2 separate regions of the Homo sapiens genome follow, and region 1 is linked to region 2. Evidence: fine-mapped expression QTL. Tissue or cell type: whole blood. Region 2 holds a variant in brackets; the other region holds the start of a gene. All regions are shown on one strand. Distances are from middle to middle.

Evidence for each region. PIP is the estimated chance that this variant, and not a neighbour inherited with it, causes the effect.
Region 1: it holds the start of ZNF335, and the variant in region 2 is fine-mapped to the expression of ZNF335 in whole blood (TOPMed, PIP above 0.99).

Annotation. Positions count from the first base shown.
Region 1 is chr20:45,970,085-45,975,084 of GRCh38, forward strand. It overlaps ZNF335 (zinc finger protein 335), which reads right to left and starts at 2,119. Exons shown (of 28, transcript NM_022095.4): 1 at 2,038-2,119; 2 at 1,126-1,376. The coding sequence starts at 1,326. RefSeq lists a silencer at 1,631-1,750 and an enhancer at 2,521-2,740.
Region 2 is chr20:46,035,472-46,041,243 of GRCh38, forward strand. SLC12A5 (solute carrier family 12 member 5) reads left to right here. Exons shown (of 26, transcript NM_020708.5): 3 at 1-64; 4 at 306-452; 5 at 1,270-1,324; 6 at 1,784-1,914; 7 at 4,902-5,143. Among named protein-coding and RNA genes, the nearest start is that of SLC12A5, 9.1 kb to the left of the region's middle. RefSeq lists silencers at 5,439-5,733, 5,516-5,716. The variant T/C (reference allele first, on the strand shown) is at 2,375.

The DNA of each region.
Region 1 (5,000 bases), 66 kb before region 2:
GGCTTTGAGGCCAAGTCAGGACTTCTTCATCCTCAGTGCTGCAGCTGCCTGTGTCCCCAGCACCACACCACTGTGGGGTTCATTGTGCCTTTTAACAGCCTCCATGCCAGACTGTGCCCTCCACAAGGGCCTGGACCAAACTTGTCTTTTCCTCTGCTGTATTTCCAGGGCCCAGCACACGCTGAGCACATGGTAGGCCCCCATCTCTGCTGAACTAATGAAACCCCAGGACCCCAAAGTGATGACCACTGCTGTGTACTTCTATCACGTGATATACTGAATATGACCATTATCTTGCATATAAGAATGGCTAATACTTACTGAGTGCTTACAATGTGCTGAGCACTGTTTTAATTATTAGCTTTGCATATGTTAATTCATTTCATCCTCACAAAAACTCTATGAGGCAGGTATATTTACCATTCCCACTTTACAGACGAGGAAACAGAGCTAGATGTTGGGTAGCTTGCTCAAGATCACACGGCTAGGAAGTGGCACAGCCAGGAGGAGATGGTTTACAAAATGTTTGCAAGAGGATGTCTGGTGGGAGCTCACAATCAAGCACCCTTGAAAGCAAGTATTTCTGCTTTACTTTAGCCGGGATACTGAGGCTCAAAGAGGTCTCCCAGTAAACTGGAGGCAGGACCCAGTCTTAACCCAGGGCACTTGCGTTTTTTTTTTTTTTTTTGTAGAGATGAGGTCTCGCTATTTGCCCAAGCTGGTCTCCAACTCCTGGGCTCAAGTGATCCTCCCACCTCAGCCTTCCAAAGTGCTGGGATTACAGGCGATGAGCTACCACTCCTGGCCTAGACATCTGCCTCTCAAAGTGTGAGGACTGTGGGTAGTATAGTAGCTAAGACCACAGCCTAGATTTGAATCCTGGCTCTGTCTGCACTCTGTACCTCGGCATCCTTTTCTATAAGATGTGGGAAAAAATGGTATGTGTCTTAGAAGGTATGAAGCTCAAATGAGAAAATCCATTTTAGGGGTTTGGCTTGGTGCCTGGCTCACAGTAAACCAGAAACACCAAGTATTAGCTACAAACAAGCCTTGTTTCCTCTTGGCTGTCAGGCACTGCTGCTCGCGGTCCTTGCCTCCACCCACGCCGTCCAGCCGGGTCCATACCTGAGAACGGCTGCCGCGGTCCGAGCTTTGCCCCACGCCAGAGTCATCGGCCTCTGCCTGCCCCGGGGCGGCCGCGGCGTCGCTGCTGTCGGCGGACACGGCTTCTGAGGTGCCCACACCCAGGCCGCTCTCAGAGGGCTCCTCGGGCCGGCCAGGCCCAGGGGCCGCGTCGCTGCTGCTCTCCACCTCGTTCTCCTCCATCTGATCGGCGGGCTGCCTGACAGCGGGGCGTAGGGTCTGGGAACTTCACTCTGAGAAGAGAGGTGACCGTGGCTGGAACAAGTGGGCCATCTCCCCAGCCCCGGCAACCACGGCCACCCATTTGCACCCCTGCGCCCATTTTGCAGATGCGAAGATTGAGTCTCCGACGGGGCGGAGCTTCCTGGTGTATTGCGAGGGGAGCTCGGGAAAAACTTGACGGAGAAGCTGTGCTTCCCAGGCTAAGGCCCTTCCCGGGAGGGTGGTCAATGGCTGGTAATCTTGACCCTTTCCCTCGCCCCCACGATTCTCGTGGAGCGTTCCGCTCTGTGAGCCCCATCCGGGCCCAGTGGTTCAGCCCTTCGGCCCCCGCGTCCCCCCGGGTTGCAGGGCCGGTGGTACAGCCCGCTGGCCCCCTGGGTCAGTGGTTCGCTCCCCCCCGGTTCCCCTGCGGAGGCGGCTGACAGCGACGGTCTCGGGGCCTGGCGATTTGGGGCTGTCCCCGGCGCTGCCTGTGCTCCAGGCCCGACGCCATCTTGTGGTGGCGCCGGGTTTCCGCTCAGGCAAGTGCGAGAGCGACTAAAGGGCCTGGGACCCCGGGGCCCTGTTCGGACAGCCCCGCCGGCCTGGGACCTCGCCTCCGGGTATCCCCGCAGTGTGACCTCACTCCACGGCAGGGTACGGTGGGGCCGCCTAACTCTACCCGAAGCTCACCCGAGGCTTTCGTAGCCACGTTCCTCTCTGACTCCGGCATCGACGAGGTCGCCATCCTCTTTCCTCCGCTGCGGAGGAACCCATCGGCCTATTGTAGGCCGGAACTACTTCCCCCGCTGGCCCCGGGAAAGACACATTTTCAGTGTTCCGGAAGGTCGCTCCGAGGCCTCAAAACCATAATCGGGTCTCAACAGACTCTGGGACTTTATACGTCGCCCGGTGTTTGGCACTGAGCCCACTATGGTTTGGGGACTACTTTATCTCGGCGGAGTGTTACGTAGGAAGTGGTTGTGACGTCATTCTGGTCCCTTCCCTAGGCCGCAGGGTTGGGCGCGGCGAATGCGCGCCCCGCTCTCTTGGGGCGTGGCTCCCAGTGGGGGGCGTGGCTCCCGGTGGCTTGGCCGCGCCCCTCCTACAACAGCCCGGAAGAGCGTGTGGCCGCGGGCGACTTTGGCTTGGCCAAAGAGGAATTCATGTTGTCAGTCATTTTACCTGACTCATTACTTATTACTTAGCGCGCTGCTGCAACCCAATCGAGCTCTGCCCGTTAGGTTTGATGTGTTTTGTTGGGAAGGGAATGTATAATTATTGTACAGATAGGGAAACTGAGGTCTGGGTATGGGAAGGGCTGGTCCAAAATCACATCCAATAAAGGGACTCAGGAGCTAAGTACGGATGGCAGGAGTCGGGGAAATGGAAAGAAGTTAATGCTTGTCCCTTAGGTTTGTATACATATTTGTTAACATTAATAGAGCTGAGGCCGGGCGCTGTGAGTCACGCCTGTAATTCCAACACTTTGGGACGCCAAGGCAGGAGAATCGCTTGATCCCAGGAGTTCCAAACCAGCCTGGGCAAAAGAGCGAGACCCCATCTCTACAAAAAAAAGAAAAAAAAGAAAAATTAGCCAGGCATGGTGGCGCGTGCCTATAATCCCAGTTGCTCGGGAGGCTGAGGTGGGAGGATCGCTTGAGTCTGGGAGGTTGAGGCTGCAGCGAACCGTGATCACACCACTGCACTTCAGCCTGGGCGACAGAGCGAGACCCTCTTTCAAAAAATAAATAAATACAAGTCAACTACCTATCCTTTAAAAGTGGAGAAAGAAAAAAAATTTTAATTAAAAGTCAGCTGCCCTTAAGGTATGTCCTTCCTCCGGAAATGTCACCTTCTGTTTTAAGACTTTTAGCAGTTTGCAGTGGAAGAGCACAAGAGGGAGTAAGGCGCTCTGGTTTTTGTCCCTAAGTCTCTGTAGTTCCATAGGCTATTTTCCTTAATTGAAAGATACAAATTTTGGGGGAAAAAAATCTCAAAAAAACTCCTAAGCAGGCTGGGCGCGGTGGCTCACGCCTGTAATCTCAGCACTTTGGGAAGCTGAGTCGGGCGGATCACCTGAGGTTGGGAGTTTGAGACCAGCCTGATCAACATGGAGAAACCCCATCTGTACGAAAAATACAAAAGCAGCTGGGCGTGGTGGCGCATGCCGTAATCCCAGCTATTCAGGAGGCTGAGCCAGGACAATAGCTTGAACCCGGGAGGCAGAGGTTGCGGTGAGCCGAGATCACGCCATTGCCTTCCAGCCTGGGGAACAACAGCGGAAACTCTTGTCTCAAACAAACAAACAAAAAGTCCTAAGGAGAAGACCTATTAATAAGGAGAAAAGGTCCGGGCTCGGTGGGTCACACCTGTAATAACCAGCACTTTGGGAGGCTGAGGCCGGTGGATCACTTGAGGTCAGGAGTTCGAGACCAGCCTGGCCAACATGGTGAAACTGTCTCTACTAAAAATACAAAATTTCACTGGGTGTGGTGGCGCGCGCCTGTAGTCCCAGCTACTCGAGAGGCTGAGGCAGGAGAATCGCTTGAAGCCCAGAGGCGGAGGTTGCCGAGATTGTGCCATTGCGACAAGAGAGAAACTCCGCTTCAAAAAATAAATAAATAAATAAAAATAAAAAGGACAAAGGGTGCTTTGAGCTGTTATTTGTGTGCACTTGTGTATGAGGGGATTCATCTGGTCCTTTTCTTAGGTAAAGTTTTCTTTCCTAGGTTTCCCTTTTGGGTTGAGGGAATGGAACAGGAGGCCTCTGGATAGGTTAGGACCCTCATCCCCTATCCCTTGCAACCAGCAGGACCAGGCCCCAGAGCAGCTCTGAAGAGCTAGGTCAGCACTGGCATGATGACATGTTGGTTTTACTATCTCCAGGCAGTTTTCCCGTGTGGACCCCATTCCTCAGCCCTACAGAAGCATCTGCCCCCTCATGCCAGTAGGGTAGTAGGGTGCATCCTACATCTGACCAAGTCACCTCTCCCAAGTTTGGGGTACTCCGAAGTAGCCCCACAGTACCCTCATTCCCTTCCCCACTAAGACTGAAGCCTCCTAGGAGGTAGAGTCTGCAGTGAACTATGAGTGCGCCACTGCACTCTGGCTTTGGTGAGAGAGTGAGACCCTGTCTATTAAAAAGAAAAAAAAAAGACTCAACCTTAATCCTGGCCTTTGCCACAGCATCACAAGATTGCAGAATGTCATGGTACAGATGAAACAGACTCATCATGAAACCGAAGAGGAGCCCAAGGCCCAGAGGGGGAAAGCTAACAGCCCAAGGTCTCGGCTCCTTGGAAACAACATACCAGAACCCTTCCATCACAAAGACAAGCAGGCAAATCCTTGTATTCTGCCTGTGAATCCAGGGTTTGTTCCTCCAGAGAGTGCAGTCTAGTTCTGGTCTCAGCTTTATTTTTTTGTTTTCTCTTTAAAATTTGTTTTATCTTTTAAAAAATTGTTTATAAAGATGGGGACTAGCTATTTTGCCCAGGCTGGTCTCGAACTCCATGGCCCCAGCTTAGAGAGACTTATGGAAGCAGTGAAGGGGCTCTGGGTCAGAGGACATTAAAGTGGACCATTGAGAAAAATGTAGAAGAGCCAAGAGGGAAAGAGGAGGGAAGATGCCAGGCAGTGTGTGTGCTTTCTGA
Region 2 (5,772 bases):
CCAGGGAAGTAGGGAGCATGAAGAGGCAGAAAACAATGAGGGTGGAAAAAAGAAGCCGGTGCAGGTGAGGACCTCGGGGGATGAGAAATGGAAGAAAAGGGACGGATGGGGGGTGGGGGAGGATGGGGGAGGAAAATGGATTTGAATGGAGGGAGGGAAAGGGGATACAAATCAGAAAGAAGAGGGATGAAGGGTTGAGAATAGAGAGAAGAGGAAGGTGGGGGCAGAGAAACATGGAGGAGGAGCACACCTGGGGTGTTCGTAATGATGAGGACTGCAGAGACTGATGCTGGCCTCCCTGGCAGGCCCCACGCATGGGCACCTTCATGGGCGTGTACCTGCCGTGCCTGCAGAACATCTTTGGCGTCATCCTCTTCCTGCGGCTCACCTGGGTGGTGGGCATTGCAGGCATCATGGAGTCCTTCTGCATGGTGTTCATCTGCTGCTCCTGTGTGAGTGACACCCCTCCCCTCACCACCCCCTGACAGCTGGGGCTTGGCAGAGGCCTGGGGGTGGGAGGTGGGAGGATGGAAGCATGAGACCTGAGCTTTTTATAGGAACCACTGCTTATGATCTTTGAGAGTAAATTAGGCCTGACTGGTCCTTCCTGCATCTCACAGGCTTGTCCTTGATGGCTGTTAACCAGGTTTCACCTGGATCTCTCTGTGTGTAATTACACAAGTGATGCAGCTCATTGATGGAAATGATAAGGGTAGGGAAGAAAATAAAATTCACCTATAATCTTACAATAGTTAACATTTTGGCAGGTCCAGACTCACAAAAATGAGATTACATGTCACAAACAGCATTGTAACCAAATTCTTCCCATTCTCTCTAAAAAAATCAAATATTCGCCAAACACCTACTTCTTGATATATTTACATGTCCTCGTACATAACCTTGAGACAGCTCTGCATGTGAGGTACGCAGTGTCGGAGCTGTTACTCCTATTCTATAGATGGAGAAACTGAGGCTTGGAGAAGTGAAGTGAGTTGTCTCAGGTCAGGCAGCTGGTCTGAGACCAGGCTGGGATTTCCAGAGCTCTCTGATGCTGTGGCTTGCTTGGGCTCCTTCCGTTCGCATGGTGAATAAGGTTTTCTTGAGAAGAAGGACTTGGCAGGAGTAGAAGTTGGAACAGGTCCAGGGAGCAGCTCAGCAGAAGAGAACCTGTGGGTTTGGCTGGTGTTTATGGGGTATAAGGCTTGGCCCCCACCCAGGCCACTGCGGCCCCTACCCCAGCCACCGCTCTGATGATCTCTTTCCTCACAGACGATGCTCACGGCCATCTCCATGAGTGCAATTGCAACGAATGGTGTTGTGCCTGGTAGGTGACTGGGGCTTTGTGGGGAGGGAGGATGGCTGGGTGGAAGGAGGGATAGTGCCCTGGGCTTTGGGGGACATCAAGGCCCAAGAGAGATAATATTCTAGACTAGGGGGCTGGGCTGTATCTGTTTTCAGCCCTATTGGGGGCAGAGGAGGAGGCAGCTCTCGGTGTTGAATAGGGCAGCCCTCCCCCAACTCATCCTGAGACCCTCCTCTCCACCATCCAATTTTCTGAGCCATGACCTCCTTAAAGGGGTAATTAGCAACATGGTAATTAGTGCTGCAAAATCCATGCAGAGTGGTTGCTTGGGTCTCTCACCAGTCCCCTTTCTAGGGCTGCAGCCCATAAGCCTGTGAGGCCTGGAGCAACCCCCTTCTGCCTCTGTCACTGAACACCCCTCACCCCTTACGGCAGCCCAGTGCCCCCGACCCTCTCGCTGATACCAGATTCTCCCTGCAGCTGGTGGCTCCTACTACATGATTTCCAGGTCTCTGGGCCCAGAGTTTGGGGGTGCCGTGGGCCTCTGCTTCTACCTGGGCACTACCTTTGCAGGAGCCATGTACATCCTGGGCACCATCGAAATCCTGCTGGTAAGAGAGGCTGAGGAGGAGGTGTGGAACCCCAGGTTGTCAGTCAGTTAATCAGTGCTCCCTGGACACCTCCTATAGGCCAGGCCATTCAGTGAGGCCAAAAATGTGGTTCAGTAAGGCCAAAGTCAGATGTGGTTCTGTTTCTAAAGAGTTCACAGTCTAGTTGGGGAGACAAGATACAATAATTATGTAACATACACAGCTGTCGTTTATCAGGCCCCCACTGAGCTCTCAGCATCCTTCCAAGTGCTTTCCAGCCATTCTCTTGTATCCTTACGAGGTTTAAGTATTATGATGCCCATTTTACAAATGAGAAGCTCAGAGAGGTGAGATAACTTCCTCAAGGTCACTCAGCTCTCAGATAGGCGGCAGAGGTGGGTTGATGAGTTAAAATATGGTAGAAATAAAAACAGTAATGTTATGCAGCAGCTACCATTGTGTGATTGCCTCCCAAGGGGCA[T/C]GGACTGTGCTAGGTACTCTATGATGTTAATGGTAGATGGCTGGTGGCTATTGGATTGCAAAAGAGAAGAACCAGGGGAGGGATCCGTATAAAGACATCTGTTGGGAATAGTGACTGATGGAGAGAAACCAGGTTGCTGGGCAGTGCTTGAAGTCAGGACTGGTGACTTAGGTCTCCATCCTTCATCCCCTTCCTGTAGGGCATGGGTGCTGAAGAGGTGTCCCTGGTGGATAGGAAGTAGAGCTGACATGTCCCAAGCCCCTACTCTGTGCAGGCCCCAAGGCTTGAAGTATATCATTTTATTTTATCGTCATGACTCTCTCATGAGTTAAAGGTGGCCATTTTATTTTATTTTATTTTTTATTTCTTTTGAGACAGAGTCTCACTCTGTTGCCCAGGCTGGAGGGCAGTGGTGCAGTCACTGACAGCCTCGACTTCCCAGGTTCAAATGATCCCCCCCACCAGTTCAGCCTCCCAAGTAGCTGGTAAGCACCACCATGCCCAGCTAATTTTTGTATTTTTTTGTAGATAGGGGTCTCACTATGTTGCTCAGGCTGGTCTCAAACTCCTGAGTTTAAAATGATCCTCCCACCTCAGCCTCCCAAAGTGTTGGGATGACAGGCGTGAGCCACTGCACCTGGCTAAAAGGTGGCCATTTTACAGATGAGGAAAGCAAGGCTCAGAGTTTAAGGAACGAATGGAAGGAATATGAACCTTGGTCTTTCTGACTTCCAGAGCCTTACACAAGTGATGCAGCTTCATTGATGAAAATGATAAGGGTAGAGAAGAAAATAAAATTCACCTATAATCTTACAATAGTTAACATATGGTAGGTCCAGACTCACAAAAAATGAGATTACATGTCACAAACAGCATTGTAACTGAATTCTTCCCATTCTCTCTAAAAAATCAAATATTCACCAAACGCCTACTTCTTGATACATTTACGTGTCCTCTATACCACACTGCCTTGGAAACCTAGAACTAGAAGGTGTCACAGCAATTAGTGTCACGGCAGGATGGAAGAGGGTAGGACAGGGAGGATGGATGGGGCATGAAAGGCCTGAGGAGGCAAATGATGAGGGAGAATAGACCTCCATGACTTCTAAAAATTAAAATATTTGAAAATTGTTGTAAATGCAATTCTGCCCATTGCAGAAAATTGGGGGAATATCCAAGTCATGAAAAAATGTAAAGAAGGAAATAAGTCACCCAAAGAAAATAACCATTAACATTTTGGTGTATTGCCTTCTAGTTTTTGTTTTTCTATGTGGTATTGTATTCTGTCTATGTAAAATATAACCCTATACCTAAGCAACTCATATTCTCTTTGTATATATTATTTGCAGTGAAAATAACTCTTGGAAGAATGTAAACGTTAATATTTAGCATGGGAATTTTAGAAAATACAGATGTGCATAAAGAATAGATTATCCACATTTTTTACGATTCAGGGAAAACTACTGACAACATTTTGATGTACTTATGAAAACACATACAGACGTATACTAATATACGTATATATCTTCACATACACATTTATAAAAATGAGATAATGAGACATATTCTTTTTCAAAAACCTGATTGTGTTCACCTAATGTACCATGGATAGCTTTTAAAGTCAGTCCATATAAATCTATGTCATCTGGCCGGGCACAGTGGCTCATGCCTGTAATCCCAGAACTTTGGGAGGCCGAGGCAGTTGGATCACCTGAGGTCAGGAGTTCGAGACCAGCCTGACTGATACGGTGAAACCCCGTCTCTACTAAAAATACAAAAATTAGCCAGGGGTGGTGGTGGGCACCTCTAATCCCAGCTACTCGGGAGGCTGAGGCAGGAGAATCACTTGAACCCAGGAGGTGGAGGTTGCAGTGAGCCAAGATCGTGCCACTGCACTCCAGCCTGGGCAACAAGAACAAAACTTTATTTCAAAAAAAAAACAAAAAAACCACCACCACAATAAAAAACCAACAACAACAATAAAAAACCAACTACATCATCTTTTTTAATAGCTCCATAGTCTGTGGGGATATCATGATTTATTCACCCAACCTCGAGTGATGAACATTTATTTCCACCTTTCTATTAGAAATTATTAAAATGATAAATAATTATTAAGAATTATAATTAACAAAAATAACAGAAGTAATTGCTTCCAGCATCCTTGCAATGTCATTTTTTAAAAAATGTATTTTTATTTGTTTTTGAGATGGGGTCACATTATGTTGCCTAGGCTGGTATTGAAATCCTGGCTTCAAGTGATCCTCCCACCTTGGCCTCTCAAAACACTGGGATCACAGGTGTGAGCCACCATGCCTGGCCTTATAATGTCATTTTTAAATGGCTGCATCATAGTCCTTGCAGGACAGGCCATGCCTTCTTTAGCGATTCTCCTATTACTGGATGTCTTTTCCAGTCTGGTACCACTGTGACTGTGCTGTGATGAGCATCTTTTTTCCTAAAGCGCTGCATGTAGTGCAAAGGGCTGCTGACTTAGGTATCTGTTCTTCCTGCCCCTTTCCCACAGGCTTACCTCTTCCCAGCCATGGCCATCTTCAAGGCAGAAGATGCCAGTGGGGAGGCAGCAGCCATGCTGAACAACATGCGTGTTTACGGCACCTGTGTGCTCACCTGCATGGCCACTGTGGTGTTTGTGGGTGTCAAGTATGTCAACAAGTTTGCCCTTGTCTTCCTGGGTTGTGTCATCCTCTCCATCCTGGCCATCTATGCTGGGGTCATCAAGTCTGCCTTCGACCCACCCAACTTCCCGTGAGTGCTGCTGCTCTGAGCCCAAGGAATCGTCCTCCTACCTCCCTGGCCCTGTTTCAGAGTCTCTGCCAAACTCCCCCTCCCTGCCCCTCAGAATCTCAGAGTGGTGTGGGTTGGGAGTAGCTTCCCTTGGGAGGGAAAATCTCTCTTAGTTTGGGGGCAATCTCTTCAGAGTGAGGTAACTTTTCTGGAGGAGGGAACAATTTACCTTGTAAGAGTCAACTTCTTGCTGGTAGGGTGGACTTAGGAAGAATTAAGTGGGAATGAGTTCCAAAGCAATGAATGCTGTCTGTGGTAGGGAAACCTTTCCTGGGTGGGGACAACCTCCTGGAATGGGACAATCTCCTAGTGTTGGACAACTCCTCCAGGATGGGAAAAGACACAGAAGTCTACAGGGTCCAGGGACTCAGATCCAAGTCCACTCCATCCACTGCTCAGAGGTGGAGGGCGGCCCCCGAGACCGCTGTCCACGGTGCTGAAACACAGCATTGCACTAATGCGGTGCTTCTCCACCTTGGCTGCTTATTAGAATCACTTGGGGAGCTTAAGAAAAAAAAAAAAAAGCCAATGGCCAGGCTTCATTTAAATTAAACGAGGAACTCTGGATATGGGGACCTGGCGTCCGTGTG